Linked DNA regions of Homo sapiens: all the other regions are linked to region 1. The links come from fine-mapping of genetic effects on gene expression. A gene starts in region 1. Each other region holds a variant in brackets. All regions are shown on one strand. Distances are from middle to middle.

What was found. PIP is the estimated chance that this variant, and not a neighbour inherited with it, causes the effect.
Region 2: its variant is fine-mapped to the expression of CYP7B1 in lung (TOPMed, PIP above 0.99). The same link has a PIP of 0.9 or more in esophagus mucosa.
Region 3: its variant is fine-mapped to the expression of CYP7B1 in subcutaneous fat (FUSION, PIP 0.95).

Annotation. Positions count from the first base shown.
Region 1 is chr8:64,794,437-64,802,436 of GRCh38, forward strand. CYP7B1 (cytochrome P450 family 7 subfamily B member 1) reads right to left here and starts at 4,301. Exons shown (of 6, transcript NM_004820.5): 1 at 4,030-4,301. The coding sequence starts at 4,151. LOC105375879 (a long non-coding RNA gene) reads left to right here and starts at 4,345. Exons shown (of 3, transcript XR_928992.3): 1 at 4,345-4,661. LOC105375878 (a long non-coding RNA gene) reads right to left here. Exons shown (of 4, transcript NR_188111.1): 3 at 7,932-8,000; 4 at 6,163-7,090. RefSeq lists silencers at 4,099-4,208, 4,219-4,268.
Region 2 is chr8:64,645,271-64,653,555 of GRCh38, forward strand. All of the region lies in intron 1 of CYP7B1 (cytochrome P450 family 7 subfamily B member 1), which reads right to left. Among named protein-coding and RNA genes, the nearest start is that of BHLHE22-AS1, 68 kb to the left of the region's middle. The variant T/C (reference allele first, on the strand shown) is at 4,159.
Region 3 is chr8:64,721,620-64,729,904 of GRCh38, forward strand. All of the region lies in intron 1 of CYP7B1 (cytochrome P450 family 7 subfamily B member 1), which reads right to left. Among named protein-coding and RNA genes, the nearest start is that of CYP7B1, 73 kb to the right of the region's middle. The variant A/G (reference allele first, on the strand shown) is at 3,847.

The DNA of each region.
Region 1 (8,000 bases):
ACAGCAGAGATTTATCTCTCACAGTTCTGGAGCCTGGGAAGTCCAAGATCAAGGCACAAGCACATTCAGTATCTGATGAGGGCCCACTTCCTGGTTCATAAATGGCCATCTTCTTGCTGTGTCCTCACATGGACAAAGGGGCAAGGGAGCCCTTTGGGATCTCTTTTATAAGGACACTAATCTCATCTATGAAGGCATTGCCCTAATGATCTAATTATAACCCAAAGACCCCACTGCTTAATACCATCACCTTGGGAGTTAGGATTTCAACATATGAATTTTAGAGGGGAAGCAAACGTTCAAACCATAGCATCACCAAAGAAGAGAGAATCTGTAAATATCTCAAGCTTTTCATAGATTCACCTTGACAAAGAGTAAAACTAAGCTTCCATGAGTTCAGAATAATTAGCCAGAAATGTATCTGCGTGCTAAAACAAAAATCAACACTTCATAGGAAAAAAACAAAATCCAAAATCCAGAAAGATAGTGCTTCCAATCAATAGACTGGCATTATTAAATACTGGCAAGGATGTGGAGCAACGTAAACCCTCATGTATTACTGGCGGAAGTGTTCAGAAAAAAAAAAGCAACAATTACTTCGAAAAGTGTCAATTTTCCGAAATGGTTGTGGATAGAAAACTCTATATTCTATGCCCCTCAATCTTCTCTCAATCAATATGTTATATATATTACAAACCACAATTAAATAGAATGAATGAACTAATGATAGATACAACAACATGAGTGAATCTTAAAATCATTATGTTGAGAGAAATAAGTTATACGCAAAAAAGGATACTGTATAATCCCATTTATATGAAGTTTGAGAATGAGCAAAACTGACTCAGAACTCGGGTAGGAACTGACTAGAAAGGAGTGTAAAATATTTTCCTCTTTCTCCGCCAGGCTCAGTTTCCATAAGGAGAGTGGCCCAGGCCCTCCTCTTCTCCATCAAACCCTTTCATCAGGCGATCTCAACTTGTTCTTGCTTTAATTCCCACTTCACATTTATGGCTTTCACAAATATGTATCCTGCCTGGACCTCTCCCCTGAGCTTTTGGTGCTCACTGCCTATTTAACATAACCCAAAGAGAATTATTGATTTCCTCAATTCTCCCAAACCTTCCCTATCTAAGGAAATGATATTACCGTTCACTAAATAATCAGACAAAAAACCCAAAACCAAAAAAAAGGGAAACAAAACTTCTAAGCTTCATTGTTGATTCCCATCTCTCTCACACATCATGTTCAGTCCATTAGTAAATTATGTTGACTCTGCTGTCAAAAATGTATCCTGATTCTAACCACCTTCCATCAACCCCACAGTCACAACCCTAGGCTAAGCCACTGTCATCTCTCCTGACAAGTACTGCAATGGCATCTGTGATTGACAGTCTCACCAGATAATATCCAACAAGGGAAAAGACAATTTCACAAAAGGAAATCAAAGTACTGTAGCCAAAAGAGGTGGAATTGGTAAGTGTCTGAAGGGAACAAATGACCTCTGAATTGATTTTTACCGATTGTTAAAAATTTTTTTACCATTTTTATAGGTAATATTTAAATTTTTACTTTGGAACATCTGGCATTCCTATACTATGCAATATTACAAACTTTTCAGCCATAATTGTTCAAAAGATGAAAATGGAATGAGAATAAAAATGTAATCTATGTATGTATAAAAATCTCTCAATGTGATAATGGAAAACTGTGCTGAATATTTTTATCATGTTAGGAACAAGAAGGGCTTTCTAAGCAAGGACATATATCCAGAAACTCTTAAACAAATGCAAATTACAATAGTAAAAATAATTGCAGCTGGTATGAAAGAGTATGAAAATTCCCATTACATAAGAGTCTTTGCTGATTATATAGAAAAAGAACCCAATAGAAAAATAAATTATTGAAGAAACAGACAATTATTTTCTTTAAAAGTATACAAATTCCTTTAAAAGTAAATACATGAAAATTTGGGATAAAAATGAAGCTGCATTTTCTTTATGTATCAGATTGGCAAAATTAAAATGATTTATAATACCAGTATTGGCAGAATGTGGAGAAATTGGCACTTGCACTACATTAGTAGTAACATAAATTGAGACTTAGAGTAGTTTGGCAACATCTATTAAAACATAAAGCACACATACATTTTGATAACAACTCCACCATCTTACATAAATATTTCCACAAAAGCTCAAAGATATCTATGTTTTGTGTGTGTGTTTTTGTGTATCTATGGTGTATATTTATATAATCATTACAAATAATGACTTCTATAAACTGACATAGGAAGGGATCTAAAATGTATTGCAAAGTGGAAAATATAAGGTGCAACACAGGGTATATTTCCCCACGATTTTTATTAACATATATTCATGCATATTAGCATAAGCTTTAAAAAATCTGTAAGAATATATCAGGGACTCTTAACCATGTTTCTGTTCTTAGAGGTGATATCTGAAAAATCATTTTCGTAGAGCATTAGGGTAAACTATCCAAACATTAGAAATAAGGAACATGACTCTGTACTGGGACAAATGAAGCTATCTTCTATACACTGAAATGCAGTATAATCAAAGTAGTGTCCTATAGATTTGGGGCATTAAACGGTCTTCCTGGTATGAAGGAATTGGCAGTTGATGGCATGAATATCTCAGTAAAATAATTTTTCATGATATAGAGAAAGATCAGCCTATTCTCAGAATGCTAGAAGAGAAAGCCTACCTTGCCCTTTTGCCTTCCTGTCCCTCAAGTTCCACATTCTCACACCAATCACCTTCACTGATCTAAACTGCCCTAGTCAGCTTGTCTGTTTCTACCCTGCATGTAAAGTGGGAATAGAACCAACAGCCTTCTTTTACCACCTCTCTTTAAAGGCATACCTAGGGGTGCATCTTAACTGGCTTGCAAATGCAAATAGAGACCCTGCAAATAGAGAAGGTGGAACCTACATAGAATCACATACCACTGAAGTTCAAGTGTCCTGAGTCCTCATCTTGGGCTCTAAAGCAAAAGTACAGCCATTGGAAAAGGCAACCTGGAAGCGCACATTCCAGGAACATCTCTGAAAACTGACATGGGAAGAAAGGCAAATACTCCTAGAGTACTCATCTCCAGGCATTCTAGAAATGTCCATAGATATTTGTATGCAGTACAAAGGTGTCACTTCCCCCAAAACTATTGAGAAACAACCTGTATCACACACACATAGATATCTATACATTGATACATATGTATGCAAATATACATACATATATCAATTATCATCCAACAAAATGCATCCGCTTGGTTCTCAAAAGCGATGAACACCAGAGCAGTATGAAAATAGGACCCAGAAAGAAAGGAAAAACAGATTAAACTCAAAGTGAATGATTTTATCTGAACTTCTCTATTTCTACTTCCACAATTCAAATTAAAGTGACACACGTCTAGATTTTGTCATTATTGTGTGTTTTGTTTTGTCCTTATAAAAATGATAGGACAACTGCATAAAATACTCTCCATTAACTCATTTAGTACTCACAAAAATCTCACGAGGCATGTACTATTATTTCAGCTTTCCAAATGAGGTACAGTGAGGTAAACTGAGGAAGAGAGGCACTCAGAGTTATTGTTCACACCATGCACTGGCATTTTCTTGAAACAGTTCTCTTTTAACTGATGAAATTTAAGAATATTCCCCTCCTGAAATGCTCTATGAATTCTAGGCCATAAAATATCAACTCGCAGTGGCAAGGCACACAATGTGTCTGTGATGCATAATGCATACCGCCAACCTAGGGCTTATTACAACTTACGCTGGAGCAGCAAATGGAATTCGGTCCCAAAGCTTTAATATGTACGCGTATGTGTGGGAAAAAGACAGAAGAAGCCTTTGTTATTACAAAGTCCCAAAGGAAGCCAGTACCCCGCAGCAAGTTCTGACTGTCTGCACTGGAAATCATGGAGGGGGACTCCCCTCGCCATCTGGGTCGCGCGCGGCCCGCGGGGCCCAGGGCGCATGCGTGGCCTGGCGGCCGAGGCGCTTACCTGGTGCGCCGGACAAGCAAGCAGAGGGCCAGGAGCAGCAGGGCCGCGGCGAGGGCCAGGCCCGGGAGGCCCAACCGCTCCAGCGAAAAGCGGCCCGTGGCCGCGGACACTTCTCCTGCCATCCGGCGCGCGCTAGGCCGCGGTGGGCAGCCCGGGGTCTGCCTGCGAACAGCGCGGTCGGCGACTCTGCAGCCTGCGGCGGCTTCTCTCGGCGGCGCCCCCTAGTCCAGGGCCGGAGAGGCTGGCCTGCCCGCAGCGCAGACAGGAATGTCACCGTGGTCTCCCAGGCTGAATGACAAAAGTTCGTGGACTGCCCCCTCCCCGCCTATCCTCCACCCACGCGTACCGCCCCGTTCCCCCACCGTTTCCGACCCGGCAGCTTCTGGAAAACAGCGCCCTTGATCCTCCCGGGCAGGAAGAAGGGCCAAGGAAGGGGTTAGAAGGGAAAGAGTTAGGATTTCCCAAGAACCAGCCCTGAAGGCCTGGAGGTGGGGGATTTCGCTTCTTAGTTGGACGGGAGCCCCTTGGGTTCCTCACTTCTTAGCCCGCGCCCTGCGGGAGGAGCGACTCTGCTTGTCCCTCAAGATGCTTGTGAAGGTGCCCGCTGCGCTCTGACACCGGCGATCTCTTAGGTACGACCCAGCGGGGTTGGGCTGGCGGCAGAAACCGGCGGAGTGCGCGACCTCGAACCCGTTTCGCGCCCACCTCCTTCACCCCCTTACATCCTATTTGCTCACAAGTTTTGGTTCAGGCCTGCTGTGTGCAGAGGCGCGTGCCAGAGACACGGAATACAAAGACCTAGGCCGTAAGCCTTTAGAAGTCCCGATGAGGCACACAGTACAGGAAGAGAGTGAGACAGGTAAAAAGAGATTGCAGAACAGCGTGGTAGGGGACGAAAGAGAAGTGGTTCAAGTACTACAGGCTGTACTCAGAAAGAATAAGGGAGAAACTTTTAAAATACCTTTTTCTGAGTAATGACCATCCACTGGGTACTTTACCCACGTTTTTACTTTCTATTTTTAATGTGTATTTTATAGAAGACATAATGAGACTCAGATTAAGTAACTGAACTTGGTTGCTCACTTGATAAATGTTTACCATTCCCACTGATAAATATCGGCCGTTCTAACCACGGTCCTATTCGAGGACTTGTGTGCTCTGTCAATGCAACACTTCTCTGGAATGGGTACAGCAGCTTCAAAACCAATCTCTGGTTTTTTACCCTTCCAGTCCATCATCCCCATTTCCACCTCCCTAAAACACAGACCTCTCCAGCTTTTACTCTGTTCAAAACTCTTAATGGTTGTCTTTGTGACGAAGTCATATCCTCCACCTGCAATGAGAAGCCCTGCACAAATTGTCTTCATTGTACAACTCCCCTCGCCAGAACGGTTCCATATATATACTCAAGCTTGGGCCACCATGTCCCTCATACTCAGCCTGTTCACATTATTAACTTAAAAAATCCATTGTAGTTTTGATTTGCATTTCTCTAATGATCAGTGTCATTGAGCTTTTTTTCATATGCTTGTTGGCCACATGTATTTTGGAAATCAGTGTGGTAGTTCCTCAAAGACAGAACTACCATAGGATCTGGCAATCCCATTACTGTGTATATACCCAAAGGAATATAAATCACTCTGTCATAAAGACACATGCACGCTTATGTTCATTGCAGCACTGTTCACAATAGCAAAGACATGGAATCAACCTAAATGTCCATCAGTGGTAGACTGCATAAAGAAAATGTGGTATATACACCATGAAATTCTATGCAGCCATAAAAAAGAATGAGATCATATCCTTTGCAGGAACATGGATGGAGCTGGGGGCCATTATCCTTAGCAACAGAAAAGCAAATACAGCATGTTCTCACTTATAAGTGGGAGCTAAATGATGAGAACACATGGACACATAGAGGGGAACAACGGATACTGGGGCCTGCTGGAGGGCAGAGTGGGTGAGGAGGGAGACGATCAGAAAAAATGACTAATAATTACTGGGCTTAATAGCTTGGTGATGAAATAATCTGTACAACAAACCCCCATGATGTGAATTTACCTATATAACAAACCTGCACATGTGTCCTAAACTTAAAAGTTAAATACATAAAATAAAAATAAAAATTCACAATTTTTAAGTTTTGAAAAGGAGAGAGGAGACTTTATTTCTTCCAAAGGGTTACAGCCTGCAAGGTGGCCATCCAGGCAAAACTAGAGACAGGCCCTTCAAAGGAGGGCTTGGGGTGGGAGCTTTATGCTGAAGAGGTTGGCTAAACATATATATTTAACTGGTTACAGGAGGAGCTATGAATATTCATGAAGGTGGTCCTGACACATGCCTATTGAACAAACATGCACGTAACATATGACCCATGTTCACTTTGGGGTGGCTACTTAACATTTAAATGTGCTACAGTTATGCTTTATATATCAAAAGATCATTTTACATACAAAGGTAGGTAAGTGTGTAATCTCTGTAAACTGGCAAAACCAGTCAATGGTCAGTGGTCTTCTTAATCAGGAGAAAGTTACTGAAACCAGACTCTTGTCCAATCAAAGCTGTAGTTATGGCTTGTGGAACAGCAGGGTCAGTTAGCATCTGATGGTGGATGAGCTGTGACTTTTAATGTTGCAAATCCTGAGGCCAGTGCTTTTTTAGTTGCTAGAGTGAATAACCTTGTGGTGGTTAGAACATAGTATATATTTTAAGTTTTACTGTCCATGGTTCTAAAGCTGTGAATGGCTAGATTAGCCCCAGAATCTTGATGTTTACGAGCCTCTTTGTCTTTGACTTCTATTCCAGAGTCTGTCTCCTGCCTCTCCTTTCTCCTGTTGTACATTGAATTTTCCAGGCAGTCCAAAATATTGCAGTAAACTGACAGCCACTCTGTCTCTTCCAAGAGAAAACAAATTGAGTGCTTTCCGTCACTGCTGGGACAGCAGAGCCAGTTTACAGGAGGGAGTCCATGCTGGGGCATTTCTGTAACCACTGCAGAGAGCCACTCACTGATTTTCAGAAGAAGTCTCAATCCTCATACTTCTGTTTTCCCCTAGATGACCTTTGTTTAAAAATATAATTAAAATACTAAGAATTCATTCTACTTACTGAACATTTATTATTTGCCAGACACCATACCAAACATATTATTTTATCACATTAATAACAGCAAAAACCCATGGTTGATTGCCCTGCCTTAGAGAAGTGGAAGGAAGAAGCCTGCATAGTTATTTACCAGATTTGGTTTGCAACTGTATCATATTCCTATGTTATCTGCACAGTGGCTTACTTGGGACACTTTATTATATATATGCAATACATCTTAAATATATATTTCTTTTGGGTTTTCCACTTTTATTAAAAGGGACCTTCGCTCTATAACCAGATTAAAACAATCTAAAGATACCTTTTATTTTTCTTTTACTTTCATGGTGGCTCATTATTAGCCTCATTATATTCAATCCAGTTCAATTCAGTTTTAACGCCAAAGTATACCATTATCCCCATCACCTCTCTGACAGAGATTGCCGGTTGACCCTCCATATCTGCTCACCCCTTCCTCCTCAGTAACAGAGTCCTCCATTTTTAACTGAACAAATGCCAGTCCATCATAAAGACTACTTCTAGTTAGCTGGGTGTGGTGGTGTACACCTGTAGTCCCAGCTACTTGGCTAATCAGGAGGCTGAAGCAGGAGGATCACTTTGAGCCCACCGAGGACTTAGAGGCCACAGTGAGCTATCATCAGAGTACACTACTGTACACTCCAGCCTGAGCAACAGAGCAAGAAACCCTGTCTCTCTCAAAAGAAGGAAGGAAGGAAGGCAGGCAGGCAGGCAGGCGGGCAATATAGTGAAACTGTCTACTAAAAATACAAAAATTAGCTGGGCATGGTGGCACGCACCTATAGTTCCAGCTACTCGGGAGGCTGAGGCAGGAGAATCGCTTGAACCTGGGAGGCAGAGGTTGTGGC
Region 2 (8,285 bases), 150 kb before region 1:
TACCCAGTAATGGGATGGCTGGGTCAAATGGTATTTCTAGTTCTAGATTCCTGAGGAATCACCACACTGACTTCCACAATGGTTGAACTAGTTTACAGTCCAACCAACAGTGTAAAAGTGTTCCTATTTCTCCACATCCTCTCCAGCACCTGTTGTTTCCTGACTTTTTAATGATTGCCATTCTAACTGGTGTGAGATGGTATCTCATTGTGGTTTTGATTTGCATTTCTCTGATGGCCAAGGAGAACTACAAACCAGTGCTCAAGGAAATAAAAGAGGATACAAACAAATGGAAGAACATTTCATGCTCGTGGGTAGGAAGAATCAATATCGTGAAAATGGCCATACTGCCCAAGGTAATTTATAGATTAAATGCCATCCCCATCAAGCTACCAATGACTTTCTTCACAGAATTGCAAAAAACTACTTTAAAGTTCATATGGAACCAAAAAAGAGCCCACATCGCCAAGCCAATCCTAAGCCAAAAGAACAAAGCTGGAGGCATCACACTACCTGACTTCAAACTATACTACAAGGCTACAGTAACCAAAACACCATGGTACTGGTACCAAAACAGAGATATAGATCAATGGAACAGAACAGAGCCCTCAGAAATAACGCTGCATATCTACAACTATCTGATCTTTGACAAACCTGAGGAAAAAAAAGCAATGGGGAAAGGATTCCCTATTTAATAAATGGTGGTGGGAAAACTGGCCAGCCATATGTAGAAAGCTGAAACTGGATCCCTTCCTTACACCTTATACAAAAATTAATTCAAGATGGATTAAAGACTTAAACGTTAGACCTAAAACCACAAAAACCCTAGAAGAAAACCTAGGCATTACCATTCAGGACATAGGCATGGGCAAGGACTTCATGTCTAAAACACCAAAAGCAATGGCAACAAAAGACAAAATTGACAAATGGGATCTAATTAAACTAAAGAGCTTCTGCACAGCAAAAGAAACTACCATCAGAGTGAACAGGCAACCCACAAAATGGGAGAAAATTTTCGCAACCTACTCATCTGACAAAGGGCTAATATCCAGAATCTACAATGAACTCAAACAAATTTACAAGAAAAAAACAAACAACCCCATCAAAAAGTGGGTGAAGGACATGAGCAGACACTTCTCAAAAGAAGACATTTATGCAGCCAAAAAACACCACATTCTTAAAGGCTGTAGGATTTCTAGATGGTAAATGAGCACTGGCTTCAACTTAAAGTCACCAGCTGCATTAGCCCCTAAGAAGAGAATCTGTCCTTTGAAGCTTTGAAGCCAGGCACTGACTTCTCTCTAGCTATGAAAGCCCTAGAGGGCATCTTCTTCCAATAGAGGGCTGTTTTGTGTACATGGAAATTCTGTTGTTTCATGTAGCCATCTTCATCAATGATCATAGTTAGATCTTCTGGATAACTTGCTGCAGCTTCTCAATCAGCTTTACCTTGTACTTCTATGTTATGGAGATGGTGTCTTTCCTTAAACCTCACGAACTGCCCTTGACTAGCTTAGGGAATATTGTGGCTGGTTTGATCTTTTATTCAGACGGCTAAAACTTTTTCTCTATCAGCAACAAGGGTGCTTCACTTTCTCACACGTGTGTTCACTGAAGTAACATTTGTAATTCCCTTCAAGAACTTTTATTTTGCATTCACATCTTGGCTAACTGGTGCAAGAGGCCTAGATTTCAGTCTGTCTTGGCTTTCAACATGCCTTCCTCACTAAGCTTAATCATTTCTCGCTTTTAATTTAAAGTGAGAGAAGTGTGAATCTTCCTTTCACTTGAACACTTAAAGGCCACTGTAGGGTTATTAATTGGCCTAACTTCAATGTTGTTGTGTCTCAGGGAATGGGGAGGCCTGAGGAGAGAGAAAAAGATGGGGGAATGGTTGGTCAGTGGAGCAGTCAGAATACATACAACATTTACCGATTAAGCTCACTATCTTATATGGGTGCAATTCTTGGAGCCCCACAACAATTACAACAGTAACATCAAAGATCACTGACCACAGATCACTGAAAAAGGTATAATAATAATGAAAAAGTTTGAAATATTGTGAGAATTATCAAAATGTGACACAAAGATATGAAGTGAGCACATGGTGTTGCAAAAAAAAATGGTGCTGATAGATTTGCTTAATTCAGGACTGCCACAAACCTTCAATGTATAAAAGATGCAATATTTGTGAAATGCAAAATATGTCTGTATATATTTATTTATTATGAGGAATTGCCTCACGTGGTTATGAAGGTTGGTAAGTCTCATGATCTGCTTTTGGCAAGCTGGAGACCCAGAAAACTAACAATATAATTCAGTCTGAGTCCAAAGGCCTGAGAACCAGGGGGAGCTGAGGCTGTAAATTCCAGTCCAGAAGCAGCAGAAGATGAAATGCAATGTCCCAGCTGAAACAGTGAGGCAGAGAAAAGAGGAAAATTCCTCCTCCCTCCACATTTTATTCTATTCAGGCCCTCAATGTACCGGATGATGCCCTCCCGCAGTGGGGAGGGCAGTCTACTCTACTGAGTCCACTGCTTCAAGTGCTAAGCTCATCCAGGAACACCCTTACAGACACACCCAGAAATAATATTTAATCTGGGTAGCCATGGCCCAGTCAAGTTGACACATAAAGCTAATCATCACAAGTTCCTTTTAGATGCCAATGATTTCAAAAGAAGGATGGCTACTCTTAGCTTTATGGCTACAATTAGCTGACAGATCCATTAATCAATGGATTAATCAATTCATTAATTCAAGCAATTACTCTATACTCAATTTGTGTCAAGCACTATAATAGGTGACAAGGGCACATGGAAGAATAAGAGGATCTTCCCTGAAAGAGCTCAATGTTGACAGAGGTGGGAAAAGGTATATATAAAAAGTTAGTGGTACACTGTGGTGACTGTAGTGATAGAGTTGATTATGAATTATGTGCTCTGCCTTGTAATTCACTTCTTATTTTGATCTTTTTTTCTAGGAATTATCTGTATTTCATTATTCCTTGTCATAATTCGCCATTGAATTTAACCCTAGTCCATGCATCTACCCCTTTTCCCTGTATATCTGGTCCTCATATACCCTTGCCAAAGGAATATGGTTGTTAAAGAGAAATACAACGCTATTTAATGATGGTACCTGTCCTGGCCACACATATTTGTGCTCGGATCCCCACATGAAAATGCAGTTTCCACAATGGTTCATTCACAGTCCTGTGGGATGTACTCACATCCTTTCTCAACACATGTCATTAACACATTCTTTAATTTCAGTGCTTGTTAAGTGATGTCTTGATGGCCCTTTGCTCACTGCTATCTCTGTATCTCAGTAAAGTAGAAACTTATAATAATTAATTCATTCTGTTTTGCTCTAGCCTCTGCTGATAACTGGCAACTTTGTAATAATTGTATTTCCTTGTGATGATAATATTCATATCACAGTGAGGTATGGTAAAGGCAAGAGGTGTAGAAGATGCTATACAACTTTTCTCATATTTAATTCCATAAAATGCATATTGTAATTTCTGCTGAATGGGATATGGAAGAGTCAGATAATTCTCCATAATCTAAAATCTACGGTCTAGAATCAATTGCCCACCATCCAAAGTGACCTGAGGTCTAAAAATAAAATATGAATGATACCTTGTCATAGCCTATAAGAATTAGCATCATCCTTACCCACATGCTCCAGAATCTGTGCATTTTTAAAAAATCATGGTAACAAATAATATTAAATTTATCATCTCAACCATTTTAAGTGTACAGTTTAGTAATGTTAAGTATATTCCCACTATTGTAAAACAGATCTCTAGAACGGTTTTCATCTTCCACCACCAAAACTCTATGCCCACTAAACCTTTTAATCGGTTCCCCTCCAGCTCTTTAAAACCACCTTCATGAATCAATAAATTAATCAATTCATCAATTCAAGCAATTACTCCTGAATTTCCTCCCCCAAGCCCTTGGCAACTACCTTTTTACCTTCTGTTTCTATCATACTGACTACTGTAGATACATCATATGTGTGAAATTATACAGTATTTGTCTTTTTGTAACTGGCTTATTTTTGTTAATATAAAATCCTCAAGTTTCATCTATGTTGTTACATATTGCGGAATTTTCTTCCGTTTTAAGGCTATATAACATTCTTTTGTATGTA[T/C]GTACCATGTTTTCTTTATCCATTCATCTGCTGTTGGACATCTGGGTTACCTCCACCTCTTGGCTATTGTGAATAATGCTGCAGTGAACATTAGGTGGGCCTGTGTCTCTTCAAGATCCTGCTTTGAATTCCTTTGGATAGAGACACAGAAGTGGGATTGTTGAATCACATGGAAACACTATTTTTAATTTTTCAGCATCCTCCATACTGTTTTCTACCATGGTTGGACCATTTGGCATTCACACCAGTAATGTGCAAGGATTTCAATTTCTCCACATCATCACCAACACTAGTTATTTTCTGTTGTTTTGATAGTGACCATCCTGACAAGTGTGAGGCAATATCCATTTGTGGTTTTGATTTGCATTTACCTAATTACTAGTGGTGTTGAGCATCTTTCCATGTGTTTATTGGTCATTTGTATTTATTCTTTGGAGATATGTATATTCAAAGTTCTTTGATCATTTTTAATTGGGTTATTTATATATTGTTTTTGTTGAATTGTAGAAGCTTTTATATCCTAGATATTAACACATCATCAGACATATAATTTGCAATTATTTTCTCCCATTCTGTAGGTTGCTTTTTCACTGTTGATTGTTTCCTTTGATGTGAAAAAGTTTTTAAGTTTGATATAGTTGTCTGTTTTTTTATTTTGTTGCCTGTGCCTGTGCATATGTTTAAAATAAAACTGTCTTACAGTTTAATTTCAAAACAAACAATGGCATAAGTTTACAGAAGCTTCTCTCTAGTAATACTCCCAGAAAAATATATAAGTTGGTTGGTCTATATGGGTCAAGTTTATTTAGACTGTGTATCTGTTCCTAATAATAAAATGAATCAAATAATATACAGATTACTATGAACTGCCTTAATGTCCTAAAAAAAATTAGAAACAAAGTCATAGATCAGTCATATATAGAAATACTTAATTCTTGGCTGGGCGTGGTGGCTCATGTCTGTAATCCCAGCACTTTGGGAGGCTGAGGTGGGCGGATCACCTGAGGTCAGGAGTTCGAGACCAGCGTGGCCAAAATGATGAGACCCCGTCTCTACCAAAAATACAAAAATTAGCTGGGCATGGTGGCATGCACCTGTAGTCCCAGCTACTTAGGAGGCTGAGGCAGGAGAATCACTTGAACCCAGGAGGCAGAGGTTGCAGTGAGCCTAGATCGTGCTGTTGCACTCCATCCTGGGTGATAGAGCAAGACTCTGTCTCAAAAAAACAAAAAAAGAAATATTTAATTGTTTATGCCACAGGTAAAATCCTTTCTAATATAAGCCTGGCAAAGATTTTTAAAAGTTTAAATTGTAATAACCTTGACATTTATTTTTTTAACTTGGACCTCTAAGAAACTTACAATTTAATAACATAACCTAAGAGCAGCAGAAAATTTTCTAGGTTGGCCTTCACCTGTCCTTTCATCCCAGCAAATACACCTTCTTCTAGAGTATTCTGGGGCCTTCTCCATAGAATGCTGTGGGGTTGGGCTCAGACGAGGCAAATGACCTGTGAAACCTCTTACAGTTTTCATTGGGTGTATAAAATGTACTTGCAAGTGCTGACTTTCTAAATTAAAACAACCTATAAAAGTGTGTTTGAGGTGGGGGAAGACGGAGATGAGGAAGAAGGCTGAGACATCCACAGTGTATTCTGATCACATGAGCTTTGGAAAAATACTACTTGGAGAATGTTTTAGGGGTTGCTTAATGTTACCAAAACCACTTGGTTCTTCTGAGATGGTTTCTCTCTTCTCTGACAGAGCTGAGAAATGAGGCTCAGTCTTCTATTATGCAGGGTAGCCAGAATATTAAGAGACCCACTCCCAAGACTACACTGCAGAACTGCATGATACACAGGTCCATACTAGTCTGCAGCTCTTTCAATAAAACAAAATGGTGTGACTCAAAGATAATGTTGGAGAAGTGGATGAACATATTGAGCCTCTGTAATTTAAAATAAATTTTGCAAATGTTTCTCAGACAATGTTGGTGGTTAAGGACGTAGCGTCTGGAGCCAGATTATCTGAGTCTGACTCCTGGTTTCACCATCTACTCAATGTGTAATCTTGGAATAAGATCTTTTTCTGTATCTTGGCTCCTGCTATGAGCTGAATGTTTTTGTCCTCTCAAAATTCCTACATTGAAACTTAATCTCCAGTGTGATGGTATTTGGGGGTGAGGCCTTTGGAAGGTGATTAGGTCATGAAGGCAGAGCTCCCATGAATGGAATTATTGCTCTTATAAAAGAGACCTCAGAGGGCTCCCTTACCTCTTCTGCCATATGAGAAAACAGTGAGAAAGCACCATCTATGAACCAGGAAGCAGCCCTCACCAGACACCAAATCTGGTGCTGCCTTGATCTTGGACTTCCCAGCCTCCAGAACTAAGAGAAATAAATTTGTGGCTTATAAGTCACCCAGTCTATGGTATGCTGTTATAATAGCCTGAATGAACTAAGACAGCTCCCTTTTCTGCAAAGCAGAGATAATAATACTGTTTACGTTGCTGGGTGGTTGTGAGTATTCAGTAGTGTGTATAAAATCTTTAGAAACATTCAAGCTCATAACAAAGGGTCTATCAATGATAGCTATTGTTGTGAATCACATATAATTTTACCTGAAAATTAACAGGTGAACATTTTGAGATAAAGAAATCTAATGGCTTACAAACATTCTAAAATTATAAATACTCAAAATGCAAATCTAGGCCTCTTGACTCCTAGCCTATGATCTCTCCAAATTACCAATGATTCCAAACTTTCGTTATTCATAGACTACTAACAATTTTTTTTGCCATATCCACGATACACCTGGTTATAGTATTTTATTAGTCTCTTTTAAAAATTGGCTCATTCCTATTCAGAACCTGAACTCAACTTTGGACCAAATGGATCTAATAGACCTTTACAGAACGCTCCACCCAAAAAACAACAGAATATACATTCTTCTCATCACCACATGGCACACACTCTAAAATTGACCACATAATTGAACATAAAACAATCCTCACCAAATGTGAAAGAACTGAAATCATACCAAACACACCCTCAGACTACAGCACAATAAAAATAGAAGTCAAGACTAAGAACATTGCTCAAAATCTTGCAATTACATGGAAATTAAACAACATGTGGCCAGGCGCAGTGGCTCACGCCTGTAATTCCAGCACTTTGGGAGGCCGAGGCAGGCGGATCACGAGGTCAGGAGATAGAGACCATCCTGGCTAACATGGTGAAACCCCATCTCGATTAAAAATACAAAAAGTTAGCCGGGCGTGGTGGCAGGCGCCTGTAGTCCCAGCTACTTGGGAGGCTGAGGCAGGAGAATGGCGTGAACCCGGGAGGCAGAGCTTGCAGTGAACTGAGATCGTGCCACTGCACTCCAGCCTGGGCGACAGAGAGATACTCTGTCTCAAAAACAAAACAAACAAACAAAAACAAAAAACTAAAAAACAACAACATGCTCCCTTTTGGGTAAATAATTAAATCAAGTCAGACATAAAGAAGTTCTTTGAAACTAATGACAACAAAGATACAACATACCAAAATCTCTGGGACACAGCTAAGGTGGTGTTAAGAGAGAAATTCACAGCACTAAATATCCACATCCAAAAGTTACAAAGATCTCAAATCAGCAACCTAACATCACAACTGAAAGAATTAGGGAAGCAAGAGCAAATTAACCCCAAAGTTAGCAGAAGCCAAGAAATAACCAAAATCAGAGCTGAACTGAATAAAATTGAGACACGAAATACCATTCAAAAGATCAATGAATCCAGGAGTTGGTTTCTTGAAAAAATTAATAAGATAGATATACTGCTACCTAGACTAATAAAGAAGAAAAGACAGAAGATTCAAATAAAAACAATGAGAAATGATGAAGAGAATGTTACCACTGACCCCACAGAAATAAAAATAACCATCAGAAGCTATCAGGAACACCTCTAGGCACACAAACTAGAAAACCTAGATGAGATGGATAAATTCCTGGACACATACACCCTCTCAAGACTGAACCAGGAAGAAATTGATTCTTTTAACAGACCAATAATGAGCTCTGAAACTGAATCAGTAGTAAATAGCCTACCAACCAAAAAAAGCCCAGGACCTGATGGATTCACAGCCA
Region 3 (8,285 bases), 73 kb before region 1:
CTCTCCTCTTGAAATTTACCGTCTTAAAAATGTGTATGACTTACAGCCATCCTGGATTCTATCTAATATATACAAAATAATACTTTGTATAGATGAAAATATTTACAGATATATATTTCATATCTATGAAAACATTTGCAGTAAATAACACTATATCTTTATGATAGATAGCAAGATACACAGCCTATATAATTATGACACATATGATATAGATAACATTATCTACTGTAAATGTTTCATTTATTGAATTATTCAAATAAGTCAAAAGAATCTGTATTATTCCACCAAGAATGTCAGTTTATAGAAATTTGATTATTGTTAATCAGGGCCTGTTCTTGCTTAAAAATTTAACTTATAAACCTCGAATTAACTATAAACAATTTATAATTTTAAAAATTAGCATAACAGGAGCACACAATGCTTTTCTTGTTATCAGGAGGTTGAGCCATGGAAGTTCAGAAACTATAATTAATTTCTTGTTTAATGAAATTGGCCAAAGCTGCCATACATCATGCTGTAAGTTGCTTCCTGAAAGTGAAGTTCCTTTTGCATCTTACGCAGCAAAACTAGTTTATAATTACAATGGAAAACTCTATGTTGGAAGGCCCTGGCCTCTCTAGACTGTACTTGCAAATGGAAAACAGAGCAGCCTAAGCTGTCCAGTATGTGCTTCCCAGACCTTATGTGGCCCATCAGAGAAGTTCCCCAAGACAAACTCAGTGTTGAAAATATGGCTATGAATATTAGCCATAAAAATCATGTTTTAATTCAAACAAATTCATTTTAATGTAAAGAAATCAAATAAACATGAAATAATTTCAACAAAGCATTAGATGATAAATACCTTTCTAACTTTAGACATAAGGACATTAGCTACTAGAAAAAATCTAACATAATTTTAATGCTTTTACTTTTGCATTGAAATTAGTGTGTGTCAAAAAATGAGATAACACAGTAGTTTTTTGCTTACATGGACACATGTTAATAGTTCTGTGGGATATTTGCAATTTTCACTTTTATGGTTTCAACTCCTGATGCTTACCTAGGAAAACTGGGATCTCGTAGTATAAAATTTAAGAAAATCAAACAAATGACTTAAAGGGAGTAGAATGATTTTTTGCGGCGGGGGGGGGGGGGCGGGAGGTTTTTTTTTATTATTATTATTTTGCCTTAATCCTCTCATTTGGTTTAGAAACATAAGGCCCTGTTCACTTCATTTAAGCCTCACAATGACTGGAAGCCTGATCAATCTGTCTTGTGTCTTCTTAGGGTGAAACTGCAATTGAGCGGAAGCAACAGATGAACAAAGCCCACATTCAAATCTGTAGCTCATTAAAATAACGTTAAAATAGAGTAAAATCTCAATTGTAAGTGAATCGTAGCTGGCTTTTTTTTCTGCTAAATACATTTGATTAATAAACTATACAATCATTAGCCCTGAATCAGTAGTCTTTAAAGTAAATTTAAATAAATGTCTACTTCTTTCTAAAAACTTGAACATTTTGAAAACCGTTTTGGAAATAGGCTTTCAACAAAGCACTACATGAGATAACTCTGCAGCATGCTCCAGTGACACATTCCATCAAGACATGATTCACAGTAATTCTACAGTTTATGGTGCTTTCTACAGTATATGGAGGAACCATACACAAGATAAAATCAGTAGCAGTCAATGTAACACTTCCCCCTCCAAACTCCTATCATTCTATAATGACACAACATCAAGTTTCTATCAATAAATGCCAAAATAGATGTGCTATGCCACAATTTTTTATCCAAATGCCCAATAAGTAAAATTTTTAGAACTTTTGTGAATTTTAAGTAACCCAGAAGTTCAGCAGGGAAATTCACAAGTAAGCATACTACCATTCCAGTCTGTACCTAATCCAGGGTTGAAATCTTTATTAACACATTTGACTAAGACAGTCAAGATTTGTAAAAGTCGGATTTTAGTTGGGAACACATGTCCATAGTTATGTCTGATGGATTTTTGTTATAAAGTATAATCATGTTCTAGAAACTGCTTAGGCAATCTAAAGATATCTGTTAAAATAAGACATGCAAACATTTTTCAACCCTAAAACCTCACCTTTAAGAAACCAATCTCAAAGAAATAAAAGCACCAGTGTAAAATCATATATAATCAAAGATATTTGCTGTAGAATTGTTTCTTGGAGCTAAAAAAGAAAAAAAAACAAAAACAAAGTAGAAAAACTGTCGGCCATTCATAGTATGGAATATTATAGAACGTTAAAAGAGTCTGTTAAAGCTACACCAGTTGACCAGGACAATTTTTCATGATATACTCTTAAATAAAAAATAAGATGCAGAGAACACATCTTTAAAAAACTAACTGGCAAAATCCCTCCACATACATGGGTGTATAAACAAAGTTCTGAACAGATCATATGCCCACAGAGAACGGTCTGAAAGGCTATGTACAGGTTGTTGATATAAGCATAGAAAGGAACGGGGTTGGGGGAGGTAGGGGTGGAGGGTTGGCTAGTAACCAAAAGAATAATTTTTTTTTTTTTGAGATGGAGTCTCGATCTGTCACCCAGGCTAGATGGAGTGCAGTGGCGCAATCTCGATACACTGCAACCTCTGCCTCCTGGGTTCAAGAGATTCTCCTAACTTCTGCCTTAGCCTCCGAAGTAGCTGGGACTACAGGCATGTGCCACCACGCCCAGCTAATTTTTGTATTTTTAGTACAGACGGGGTTTCACCATGTTGGCCAGGCTTGTCTCTAACTCCTGGCCTCGCGTGATCCACCCGCCTCAGCCTCCCAAAGTGCTGGGATTACAGGTGTGAGCCACCGCGCCCAGCCAAAAGAATGAATTTTTTTTCCAAAAGTCCTCAATGACAACAGCATATTATTCTGATATATCTGATTTTTACAATGAGCCTGTAATAGTTAAATAATCAGATTAAAACAATAAAGTCATTTTCACAAATAAAGAAGAGATGTCTGAGAAGCAAGTCTGGCTGGAAGCTTTTCAGGTTAACAGGCAGCTTTGCAGGTTAATTCCTAGTTTCTTCATTTGCTTGTATTGGGGCTCTGAAAATGATACTCCAAAGTATGATGCTTTGGTGTGCTGAGTACTTTGAACTAAAAGATGTAGGGCTCAGAAGCAGCCTCAGAACGAAGATCTCTCTGCCCTCCTGCCCTCCTGTTTCTCTTCCCTGGCTCTCTCTTAAGGTGAGTCAGAATAAACAGAATTCCTCTTCCCCAAGGCAGTTCCCCTTTTCCCCAAAGACAGACATAAAACCTAGAAATATTACTCTAACCTTCCCCTGTCTTTCTGTCTGTCAGCTGGCTGTAAAGAAATTCTCTGACCTAACCTTGTCCGATAGTACGTCATAAGACCCTCATTCCAGAGGTTTCCTGCCCATTCCAGTGAGAAGAAATACTACAACAGAGAAGCCAAGAAGAATCTGAACAGATGGGAGGCCTTGTTGGGTTTCCCCATCAATCCGTAACCATTAGATCACCCCCTTTGGTCCAATCACATTTCTACATAGCTGTCCATTTTTCACCAAACCTACACATAAAAATAGGCAGTGTTCTCTGAGTCTTTGGGTCTTCATTGTGAAGGCTCCCAAGTCACATAAAATGTTGATTATTTAAATAAAGATGCTATGCTTTTCTCTTGTTAAGCTGTGTTTTGTTATCAAAGTATCAGCCATGACCCTTATTGTGAGAAAGAAAGGTGTCACACCCTGTCCACTTCTACACTTGCTTTATACTTTTGGAGAATCACTGAACGTCTCTCTCCACTTTCCCCCTGTGTCAAGTTAGGTAATGTTAAAGTCAGCATTATGTGAAATCATGCATTTAAAACACCT[A/G]GAAGCAGGAATGACTACTCTAAGCCCTCAATACATTGTGATTCTTAAATCCTTCTCCCTGACTCTTGCCCTAGGGTTTCAGAAGGTGGCTTCCTTGCTGACAGTGGGAGCTGGATTCAGGCTGAAGTAGCTACTAAAAGGCTCTCATATACACACATAACTGCAAGGCTTGGGCCTGTCAGATCACAGAAGGGAATGCAGAGAGTGGGAGAGGAAGGTAGGTTAGGAGGAGGAGCAGGGAGGGAAGACTGACACACTTCTTAGATATCTTTTGGTGATGAAAACAGAAAATATGACTATGAATCCATTAGTAACACACAGTGATAGAGAAAAGCATCTCTGACTGTTGATAATCTAGATTCTGATCAGCTGCCTAGTATCTCTTCTCCTTCATCATGCCCTGACCTCACTCATTGGTCCACCAAAAGCCCACCCTTCTCAGTGGATATGCACAAGCTCTGCTCACCACAACAATCCGCTGTCGTGTGGCTGCAGGGCCAGAGATTTCTGAGTAATCACAAAGGAAGCAGACCGTCTGTTTCATGGATATCTTGTTCTCCTGTGAGGATCTGACTGACATTTTTTAATTAAACTGGCCCACTGGAGTTTAATTAAGGTGTTGTCTTCTTGAGATGAAACTAAAGAAATATAGATCCCTTTTATGGAACAAACATGTAGGATAAGAAACCTTCTTCTACCCCTCTGATCTTTAAAAAAAAATGCCCTCAATTGTTTCTTTTATTCCCAAACGTTTTCTTCTTTTTATTAACAAAGTTGTTTCAGAAGTGACTTAAAATGGCCCATAGGCTAGCCCCATAAATCTACAAGTATCTGAGAAATTGCAGAGACTGATGATGTACGTTGGGGGATAAGAAAGTCTGCCTTTTAAATTCAATTTAATAGAAATCAGCTTAGAAAATATGCATTGACTAATGGCCCAGTAATGAACCCAGTTACAAAAAGTAGTTTGAATCTCACAGGGAAACTAACCAGGTTAAAAAAGTACATAATAAAAGCAACCTCCTATTGGAACGGGCACTAGATTGAAGTCAGGGTTGCTGGCTGTGGCTTTGCCCTTCCATTTTTTGGCGCTGCATCTTTAAGCAAGTTACCTAGCTTCTCTGAACAGTAGCTGCCTGATTTGCAAGATTTGAGTGTTCTACCTCGCTGTGTTAAGGCAAAGATTAAATGGGATAATAAATGTGAGAAGCTTGTGTGGCCTGTACAAATACAGATAACCATCACTATTATTTGGGAGAATTTCTTTTGGAAACGATTCTGAAGTTAACTTAGGATCATCTGTATAGCAGACAATGTTGAATCTCCTTCCCATTCCTTCTTGCCACTTTTGCATGCACCCCACCCCGATTTTGTGGTCTGGTGCTTTCAGTCCCCCACCCCCAATTCCTGTAGCTCTTTGGAGGACAACTCTCAGGCTGATGGAGCCACTTTGTGACAAGGGCAGAAAGTGGGAAGTGCCTGAGGGCCTATGATCCTTTGCACACCCTGAGACTATCATCCAATGAGTATGGGATGAAGGAGCATGAACCTGCAACACAAATAGGTCTAATTCATACTCCAGAGTGCTATAGGGTTAGACTGAATGAAGTCACACTCTGGGAGATTCTGTCCAAGCTAAGTCAAACCCTTCCTCCACTTTCTCCCTTCCCTGCTGTGCTTTCCCTGCCCACTTAAGGGTTTCCCCTGGGAGTTCTACTTCTGAGGAACCCAATCTGAGACAATACAGTATTATAAAGGCTCTCAATTCATTTTCCTTCATTTGAGAGCCTAAATTTTTATCCTTCTTATTTCTTTTAGCAAAAAGTATAATAATTCACCATTTCTCTTTGCTGACTAGGTTTCCAAATGACATAATTCCCTAGCATTTGTTGCTTTCATTCAATTATCTTTCCTCACAAATTACTTTTTGTTCACTTGAGATCTTTTAATGTATATATAGTCAATGAGCCAATTTTCATGATAATTCTCATGAATTAGGTATTCACACAATATGTACATTGATCATAATAGTAAATGACACAAAGGACCTAAGTTTTTGAAAAGAAGAATTATCATGAAGATTCCAACATCAAAGCCACCGCATCTGTCCCAGTACTGCATTCTTCTAAACTGAAAAGGACTATAGGGAACAGTTGACCAAGTAGAAATCTTTAGGCAAAGATTATGCTAATACACATGCCCACAGAGTCAGGGAAAGTCAGTCTAGAAAGCCCAACGAGAACAATCTAAAGTTTTTTTAGACTGACAGACTTAAAACCAATACTCAAGGTTCACAGCCAGGGCAATGTGCTTGGACAATTCTAACACAGAACTCCAATGGTATCTTCTATTTCAAAACACAGGAAATGAAGCAAAAAAAATCTACACTTGGATTCCAACCTTTTAAGAAGCATGGTTAATTTGAAATATACCTGAATATTCAACAAAAGTATGGATCAAGAACATTTAAATTAACCTCTTTCATTACCATCATTATCTCTTCATCCTCTCATTCACCACCACAATGGAGAAGTTATGCTTGCCACTCATTTGGACAATAGGGTCATAAGTCGTGGGTTTAGCATGCAGTACCTGCTGTGGTACACATTCTTCTGTTAATGAGCATGCATAACTCTTCATCCCTAAGGAACTGTCTCTGCACATAAAAGGATACATAATTTTTTATAATGCCAGAAAGAAGTAAATACAGCTCATTGAGTTTTCTATGGGAGGATTTGGAGAGTTTAATTATCATGCACTGCCAGTATCTCTAGGCACTTACTAGACTGGTTCTTTTTCCATGTATCATACCACCAAGTTACCAAGTATATTGTTACCAAATACAAGGTAAAAGCACATTTTAGATCCTTGTGCTGGTTTCAGTGGTCATATCTTACTGCTTCTCTCTAGAGAGCAAGTCTCAGGCCACTAAAGCCACTTGGTCACATGCAGTGAGCAAAAGTGCAGAGATCAGCAACAGATCCTTCCCCACACTGTTAGCCCCTTATCTCAGATGTGAAAAACTCTTAAGGTGTCAGTTACACCAACCATAATTGATGTGTAAAAGACTTCTCCTTCCGGATGTATTCAAATTTTAAGTTATTATAATTGTTGAGTAAAAGAAAAGCATTGCATTTCCTCATAATATATATTAAATGTTCTGCAAAGAAGCTGACACATACTAAATGTTCAGTAAATGTTGGTTGCTATTATTGTGTTTATTAGAATGATTATTATCGTTAAGAAAAACTCAAGAGAATTATCAAACACTTCTAGAAAAAATCAGGAAAACAACTGAAATTCAGTTTCAAAATGTTCAAGAAATTTCTGCCATTTCTTAAATTGTTTATAATGCAATGAGTGAAAAAAGACTGTTAAGAGAGAATATCCTACCCAAGAAATTCTACCTTAGACCAGGTTCAGTGGCTCACACCTATAATCCCAGCACTTTTGGAGGCCATGGCAGGTGAATCTTTTGAGTCCAGGAGTTCAAGAACAGCCTGAGGAACATGGCAAAACCCCATCTCTATAAAAAAATAGAAAAGTTAGCTGGGCATGGTGGTGTACTCCTGTAGTCCCAGCTATCAGGGAGGCTGAGGTCTAAGGATCACTTGAGCCTGGGAAGTTGAGGCTGCAGACAACTGTGAGAGTGCCACTGCACTCCCGCCTGGGCAACAGATCGATACCCTGTCTCAGAAAAACTGTAAGAAAATCAGAGAAGCTCTAAGATAACAGCTAATGTAAATATGTATTTCAGATGATCTTATGATACTTGACACATCAAAACAAAGTGAAAAGTATTAATCTAGGACTTTCTATCCTTCATTACTTGATCAGAACATACACAAACATATTCACACATGCACACATACACACATTCATGCACACACAATCTTACAGAGACACATTCAGACACACACGAAGGCAGTCCTTGACTTGCAAGATGGTGCAGAGCCATAAACATGACCATTTATGCTGAACTGTGCAAAGCAGTGTTAATAATAAATGCAAAAATTTATGATTGTTCTTTGACCTTTAAAATTGTTTGTCGAGGCGTTAAAAACTCTTATGTTAGTTATAAATGTTAGAGAAATAAAAAATTAATATAACTAATATTTATCCAGCATAGTGTAATTTAAAACACCAGAAGACATTTTAAGCGTGAGATTTTTTCCCTTCATAAAAATCTTAACCAAGAATAGCTTGAATTTCTCGTCATGAAACTTACAAGAAATGGGGTAAGCATCTTGCCTATGTCCTGATGAATCATCACATTCCTTTCTAAATTTGGATCCGATTCTAACATTTTGTCCTGTGTGCTCTGAATGTTATGAAATATTTTGAAGCATTCTTTTAATGTAAAGTTTCTTGTCAGTGTCACTTCCTCTGGGACATCTTTGTCCTTTTTGTCACAAATAGTTTTCTCATTTATGTTGGTA